Homo sapiens: one gene and its partner. The protein of the gene in region 1 purifies or fractionates together with the protein of each later gene. This does not show direct contact. Each region holds a gene or a part of one and is shown on either strand. Other genes may lie near its edges. The genes, in order: AWAT2 and HERC3.

What was found.
Region 2: the proteins of AWAT2 (region 1) and HERC3 purify together in Homo sapiens (affinity purification with mass spectrometry; one large-scale study listed by BioGRID and IntAct). This does not show direct contact.

What each region holds. Positions count from the first base shown.
Region 1 is NC_000023.11:70,046,835-70,051,438, forward strand, and holds the start of AWAT2 (acyl-CoA wax alcohol acyltransferase 2), read right to left. Parts: upstream 3,105-4,604; 5' UTR 3,099-3,104; coding exon 3,014-3,098; intron 1-3,013. UniProt on the Homo sapiens protein: Acyltransferase that catalyzes the formation of ester bonds between fatty alcohols and fatty acyl-CoAs to form wax monoesters.
Region 2 is NC_000004.12:88,668,745-88,672,563, reverse strand, and holds part of HERC3 (probable E3 ubiquitin-protein ligase HERC3), read right to left. Parts: intron 2,705-3,819; coding exon 2,541-2,704; intron 2,426-2,540; coding exon 2,312-2,425; intron 1-2,311. UniProt on the Homo sapiens protein: E3 ubiquitin-protein ligase which accepts ubiquitin from an E2 ubiquitin-conjugating enzyme in the form of a thioester and then directly transfers the ubiquitin to targeted substrates.

The DNA of each region.
Region 1 (4,604 bases):
CCAGAAAAACTTTGAAATTATTTTGTCAAATTGCAATGATGATACTTCTAGGATTGGAATTAGGTATTTTTAATCCTTATGTTAAGTAGAAAAAGTTTTATTTCTATAAAATATTTAGTACTTAAGATTCAAAAATTGATTTTAAAATATTACACTAAAAAATAAAATAATAAAATAAAATGAGGCAATTATTAACTTCAGGGAAAACAGGAAATTCCATGGGAAAGGAAATATAATCTTGGTGACTAAATAGCTCAATTATGAATCATATTTTCTAGTCATAGGCATTTAACCAAAACCTGTGCTATAACAATTTTGGGAGGATGGGGGAAGAGGAAGTTCTAGTGATAGTGTGCACAGCCAAATTCTCATCTTCCATATTAGGAAGTCAATAGACAATGTCTAAAATTGTTACATCAGCAAATAATAAGATTTAGAAATATGGAAGTAAATTCCAGAAGAAAGAACCAACAAAGTTGAAAAGCACTGCCTTGGGAAAGAGAATTAAGGGTAGAGCAAAGGCCAGCAGTTCTAGGGTTTTGATAAGTGCCATATGACACTACTGACTTCTTTGAGAAGTAAAGAGAGGCATTGGGTCTGATCCAGAGGACACCTCCCAGTTTCCTTTAGGCTCTGCTCAAACCTAGGCAGTGCTGGGGACATCTTGTAAGCGTGGCCTCAGGTGGGGTGCCCTGTGATGTGATGAATCTTGGATCTGCCACTTACTGTGTGTGACCAAAGACGTTGCTGAACCTCAGTTCCTCATCTGCAAGATGGGAACTAAAATACCAATATCTGCACTATTTCCCTCACTTATTGGGAGGGCCTTCTCTCAAGGCCTTTAGGGTCCGGATGGATTCAATTGCACTCCTAGAGTGAAGAGCTGAGAGGCCTCCGAAGGGCCATTGCCCCACTTGCCCTATGTGAACTAGTGAGGAAGGGGCAAACGCCTGCAGCCCATATCTGCTGCCAGGACCGAGAGCTCTTCTGCCTGCCCTCTCTGTACCTCTTAGTATACCCCGAAGTCAAACTCCAGTTAAGAGTCCTCTGAGTCCATTTTGTCCCTGGACTCATCCCCTTTCAGCCACTCTCCTCCTTAACCCTTCTCTGCCCCACCTGCCCCCCTGCCAGCTCACACTGGGACCTGATCCCTCAGTCTTGCTTCCTCCATTTCTCCCGTGCCCCCACCCCCCATCTTCAAGTCCTATTCATTCTACTCCAATTTCTTGAATCTCCCCTCTTCTTTCCTCTTCTCTGCATCACCATCACTACCGGCCTGGTCCAAATTACCGCCATCTGGATTATTGCAACAGCCTCCTACCTGGCATTGCCCCTTCCACTTCTATCTTCCTATAATCAGTTGACTTCACAGAGCTAGAGTAATCTCTGATGCCATCACCCTGTGTCAGTCTCCCTCATGGCTCCACATGGCTCTCAAAAAAAGTCCAAACTCCTTCCCATGGTTTACAAAGCCCTACACAATCTGTCCCCTGCCTGTTTCTCCAGTCTCTTCCTTCTTCCCTCTCTTGTTTGTTCATTCATTCATTCAATAAATATATATCGAGCACCAATTCTGTGCTTCTCACCCTCCACCTCACTTAACCACTGGCAGCTCCTTGAATGCATTATGTGCCCTTTGCCATCCTAGCTTTTCCATGTGTTGCCCACTCTCTGCCCCAAATGCTCTTCCTTTCTTCACCTATTTCCTATTTGTCCTTCAAGAGTCAACTCAAATTCAAGAGAAAAATGGGCAGAGGTCATAAATGGGCAGTTAACAGAAAAAGAAATACTAATTGCTGATAAACATGAAAAGATGCTCAAACTCATCAGTAATTAAGGACGTTCAAAATGAGGCGACAGCTCATGGTTTCTTGCCTATCACTTCTGGGTGGAGGTAGTAAGGACTGTGAATGAGTTCTCCATTCACTTTCCCTCCCATGCTGTGGTAATCCCTCAAGCCCCATTTTGCAGCGACACAATTTGGTGGTGCCTCCGTCAGCCTGAATATCAATGTCCACAGTGAGCGGTGACTCCCACCAACCTATGTTGGACATTCAGCATGAACAAGAAATAAACATTTGCTGGGTTAAGCCACTGAGATTTCAGGGTGAATTTATCAGCACGGCATACCTAGACCATCCTGATTAATACACCCTGAATGCTCCCACTTTGCAAATGAGGAAAACAAGACTCAGAAAGGATAAATACCTTGCTAAGAATTACACAGATAGTAAGTAGTAGAACTGGAATTTGAAAACAGGTGAGGTGAGGTAAGGAATGCCCACCCTTCCTATTCACTGGCGTGCCTCTGTGCCAGCTCTGTGCACCAAGGCCTATCTGCATTCTTTATTCCTAGATAGCTTGCAAGGTCACTTAATTCATTTCCCTGACTCCAGCCAGTACTCACCTGAACCACTGGAAAGGCAAGAATGTTTTCCAGGACCCCTTCCCACAGTGATGATTTGTTTCAGCATTTAGAACACAGTGGCCAGCATAGAAATAACTTTCACAAAGTGTTTGTAGTGTAAGCGTTGGAAGACATGGATGGATAAATTGTCGAATTCCTCAGGATGAGGTTTCCAGAGCCTCGGTCTGCCACCTGACCCAACTATCTCTAATTGGTGGTTTGCTTGAGTCCCTGTGATTGCAGCCAAGCCCTTTTCCTTGGCTAGCCTCAGTGGAACTGCTCCTCATCTTCCCAAAGAATGCCCTCTACACCCCAATGTAGACCGAGAAGGGCTCACACCTGCAGCAAAGTCCATGTGCATAGACGTGCATATACACACCCCTGCATAGGCACACACCCATATGCACACACACATGCCCACAGGGACACTCACAGATCCCACAAATACCATGGCCAGGTGGGTCAGGCCAGAGGCTGGTGTTACCAACCTTCCTGGTTTTACTGGAACAACCCTAGTTTGACCATTGAACATCCTGCAACCCTAAAATCCTTCAGTCTCAGGCAAGCCAGGATGGTTGGTCACCCTACCAAAGGCTGAAGACTCACTGATAAGCAAGGCACTGAAGGACCACTGGAAAACAGCAAAGACATCCAGGGCAGTCTTGAGGTCCTTCTTAGAGGGCAAGAGCATTGTGCCCAGCGTCCCAGTGGCTCCAGGTAAGCACTGTTCAGCTGCCCAGCCCTGATTGCTCAGGAGTCTGTGATGTTTCCTCTCTTAATGTTTTCTTCCCCAGCCTCTGGCTAGCCTCCGCCCCTGTACCACCCCTCCACAGAATTACAGGACCATATAATGCCTCTGCTTATCCAGTTCCTTCCAGCTGCCCACTCACCTGTACTTTTACCCACTTGGGTATTGCCTGGACTGAGATTGTGACACTCCTTTGCGCACTTGGCTAGAGAAATGTGATGAAACCCTGGTGTGAAAGTTAGTGTGGGCGTGCAGCTGACAAGAGGCCTCCAGGGCCAGTCTGGATGGTGGAGAGTGATGGGCAGGAAGGAGCCCAGGGCTCAAATGGGACACAGGGCTTGCATTTCTGTTTCTGAGGCCCAACTGTCTATGGTCTCTCAGTGACAATGGGATTGGAGGGCAGAGGGAAGGAGGTCACAGGCAAGGCCTTAGAAATACCTTCAGCCTTTTAGTCAGTCTGGGAGAACTCATTACTCACATTGAAGAGACATCACATGTATGTCTGTGAGCTATCATAGGTACTGAATAAACCTATTATTGAATGAAGAAACAAATATTGGTGTATATTATTCTGTGTACATGAAATTTTAGAATAGGCAAAACCAATCTATAGTGAAACAAATCACAGCAGTGGTTACCTGTGCTTGGGGATTGACTAGGAAGGGGCATGATGGAAACCTTTAGGGGTAACAGTGACGTTCTCTGTCTTGATAGGACTGTGAGTTACACAGATCAAAACCTCATTACTCAGTGAGTATACACTTAAAATGTGTACGTTTCACTGCCTGTGGATTTTACCTCGAAAGTAAAAAAAAAAAGTTGAACTCTCATTAATTCTGAAGTGTTTAGGGGTGAAGAATACTAGGCTGGGCATGGTAGCTCACACCTGTAATCCCAGCACTTTGGGAGGCCAAGGCAGGAGGATCACTTGAGGCCAGGAATTAGAGATTACAGTGAGCTATGACCGTGCCACTGCACTCCAGCCTGGATGACAGAGTGAGACACTGTCTCTAAAAAAACAAAACAAAAAAGAGTGCTGATGTCTGCAATTTACTTTGAAATGCATGTAAAATATATTGATGGATGGATACAGGGATGTACTGATGGATAAATATGTAATAAATCAAACAAAGATTGATTTATTAAATCTAGTAAAATATATAAATATTTTATATTTTTAATATTTTAATATTTTTTATATTTTAATATATTTTTATATATTAATATTTATATATAATATATTAAATATATTTTTATATTTTAATATTTTATATTTTATATTTCTGTACAGATAACATAAAATATTATCTGTACAATCTAGGTGGTGGGTATTCACTGTACAATTCTTTCAACTACTCGGTAGGTTTGAATTTTTTTATAATAGAATTTTGAAAAAAGAGTTCCCTCAAGGTCATACTTTGGGAGGCCGAGGCAGGCAGATCACCTGAG
Region 2 (3,819 bases), on another chromosome or scaffold:
AAAATCCATCTATTATTTAAAAGTAGTTAAACAAAAATAACATATGAAATAGCTTTAGTATTTTAAATTAAACTTCAAAATATCAAGACATTTAAAATTCAATTTCTAATAGCATTGTACCTCATACAATAAAAAAAATTCCACAAAAATCACAAAAGGCCATATACTAATTTCATGTAATTTTCCATATTTCTTTAATAACTATTATAGTTATTGAAGAGATGAGCATCTGTTATTCAAGATCTGATAAGATATTTATCAAATGTTAAAAGAAAGGAAGTTTAAAATATTGTAAAAGTTACTTAAATATCTCTACTCAGAGACTACTGTCATAATAATCTAGATTTTAACATGAGCAACTTCTTTTTCAGAGTAAAAAAGAATTACAATTTGTTAGACTTATTTTATTCAGCATCAAGTCACAGAAAGGGTAGATTAGAAATCAGAAGAATTGACTTTTACTGCTACTAATGAAATTAGTGGAAAAATTGTTTAACTTCCATTTCCTCATCTAGAAACAAAGCAGTTGGACTAAATAATTCATCAGGCTTATTTTTCTGCTCATAATGTTATTATTCAGTGAATAATTATTCATAAATTGATAAAACAGAAGGGCTTATTTTTTAATAATTCCTAAATTTGAAAGTGAAAACAGAGTTCATTACTAGCCTCCATGTTAAATTTCCCAAGTCAGCCCATTTAGAACACTCTAACTCATTTATATTAAAAAGTATTTTCCTGGCCAGGCACAGTGGCTTACCCCTGTAATCCCAGCACTTTGGGAGGCCGAGGCTGGTGAATCACTTGAGCTCATGAGTTCAAGGCCAGCTTGGGAAACATCACAAAACCCCATCTCTACAAAAAATACAAAAATTAGCCAGGCATGATGGCACGCACCTGTAGTCCCAGCTACTCGGGAGGCTGAGGTGGGAGAATGGCTTGAGCCTGGGAAGCAGAGGTTGCAGTGAGCCAAGATGGTGCCACTGCACTCCAGCCTGGGTGATAGAGCCAGACCTTGTCTCAAAAAAAAAGTATTTTGTTTTCTCAGGGTAATCATAAAATCTTATTTAAAAATAAAACATTGTATGCATTTTTTAAGTCTCTAGAGAAAAAAATACAACATTGTGTCTAGCATTCATCATCTATTATTTGACAAAGAAAACAATCCTTCTTGTTCAGTTAGATCAGCCTATTTAAATGTCTTGCTTTTGGAGACAACTGCTGACTTCCAAAAACCCCACAGGAAAAATATTGCCCTAATACTGGTGATGAACCTGCTACACTGGCAAGGACTCACCTCAAATCTGCTGCACATGGCTTCACAAAATACAATAACCAAATTATCATTCTGTTTTCTGACCTAACTCAAATTTGCACATACTCCACAGATGGGAGATCCTAAAGAGCCTTGCATATATCCCAAGCTGGTGTGCTATCAAAAGGAGCAGTTCCTGCCACGCCAGAGGTGGTAGGCAGGAATCCACAGGCCCCTGAATGGCATATCTAAAATACGGTGAGACAGCACTTGGTCAGGGATGTGTGACACTTTCACACACATAATTCTCAATCAGAAGGGGCCTACGGGGTCCAGGTAGCTGACATATGATGACTGGAGTAGGCTGTCAGAAGATGATAATTAGCAAATGACCCTTCCTCAATGTCAGGGATAAATTACGCTGCAGTGGGAATTGTGGCATATACATAAGCCTCATCTAAAGAGTCACTCTTGAACTCCAGCCACTTGGTGTCATATGGGAAGACAGGTCGTGTTGCCAGATCTTCCAAGTTTTGAGGAAAGCTAAAAATTCATATTTGTATGTGTCTTGTTTTTTTAATTATGGTTTAAAAAAAAACCTAACATAACATGTACCATCTTAAGCATTTTTAAGTGTACACTTTCAGCAGTGTTAAGTATAGTCACACTGGTGTACAATTGGATCTCCAAACTTTCTTATCTTGCAAAACTGAAGCTATACTCATTAAATAGCAACTCTCCATTTTCCCCTGCCTCCAGCCCCTAGCAATCACCACTGTACTTTCTGTTTCTGTGGATTTGACTACTTTAGATACTCTGATTTTTTTAAAGGGGGCAACTGATAAAATGTGTAACATTCTGGGTGACTACTCATTTATGACTCCTTATAACATTGATGATTACTTAAAGCACTTCCAAGTTTCTAGAATGCAAAAGGCCAGCTGGATGAAGAATAGGTGACACACTGACATCAAAGTCAAAGACATATTATACAGCTCACATGTGCTTTTCTTATAAAAAGACTAAAGCTTTAAAATATGCTTTATGAATTCTTACCATCCCTGCTTGATGCAAGAACCACATGAGGTAGTCTTCCTGAATGTCCACGAGATTGGAAATCTCAGGAATGTAAAATGTATCATATTCCACATGCTTCACTTTAAGATTTACCTAATGAAGAACAAAATACAGACAACTGAAACATGGCTTCCCAGAGAACATCTCACTAGGACATTTTACCCTACCATCTAATCACCCCCTCCCCACTAGCACCTCCTATGCTCACCTTATATAACTTCTCCAAGAGTTTGAGAGCTGCTGTGATATAATTGTTAAACAGTACGGGAATTAAGAATGTCTTTCTTCCCCTCAGTAGATAAAGGACTGCACCTTTATAGAGGTTTACCAGCTTCATGAAATATTTCGGGCATACCTGAGACCACCAGTTATCTTTAGAAAGAAAGAAAAGACATATTTCAACATGTAATCTTGGGCAAGTATTTATGTCTTCTGCCTGCCAGTTAAAAATTGCTTTGTCTAGAAGATAAACATTAGTCTAAAATACATTTTCCCAAAACTGACTTTAAAAAGAATCCATTAAAACCTTTTTGGGGAGAACAACAGCTGTAAAAGAATCCCTGGAGCTTTTTTTGTAAAGCCTGGTCTGATTTTTTGCAAAGACTCAATCTGAAGGTTAACTTAAAAGTCCAATTCCAGACTACATGTGGACAAGATACACATATTTTGGGCAGGAGTGATGCCCAATGTATTAATCCAAAAAGCATTCTTATGTCCTAGCGCTTTCAGCCATCACTAAATCCTGAAGCAGAAATGCAAAGGATGACGCACCACATACCCTAGAAGCAGCACCAATATGGCAACCATTCCCTTCCCTTTAAGAGGTATCATTAGTTGAAAAACTACGATTTTTACTTCTCACCAAAAAATGCTTTCTCATAACCAGACAAGAAGATATACCACTGGCTTATACTTCGTTGGAAATAAACTCAGCCATACTGAAATACTTAAAGAATGAAATAGTATGTCTGAGATTTCCTTTAAAATACTCCAACAAAAAATAAAAAGGTGGTGAGGGCGAGGGACAGATGAAATAAAATGGGCAAAATACTGACAACTGCTGAATTTGTGTGGTGACTACCTGTAGCATACTCTCTACTTTGGGGTATTCTTTTAAATATCAATAATTAGAAGTTAAAAATAAAGTGTAAAATTGAACAATTATGTTCTCTTTGTATTTTCCAGCCTGGAAAAATAAAAATGAAAAAACTCTAAAACTTGAAAGTCAGGTAAGATTTCTTCTGATATTGCCACCTCTCTGTTTCACATCAACTAGAACACCTGAGAAAATGTGCCCCCAAAAGGCTTTTGATCTTAAAAAAAATTAAGTACTAACATTTACTAGTGCTTTCATTATTATTTCTGTTTTTATCTCTTCTACAAAGGTGGAGGCAATATAGAAAAGCCAGTATTCCACCTTCAGGAACACAATCTCTTTATTCACGGCGAGACCACACTCAAGTAACATCCCAGTCCATCTGGAACAC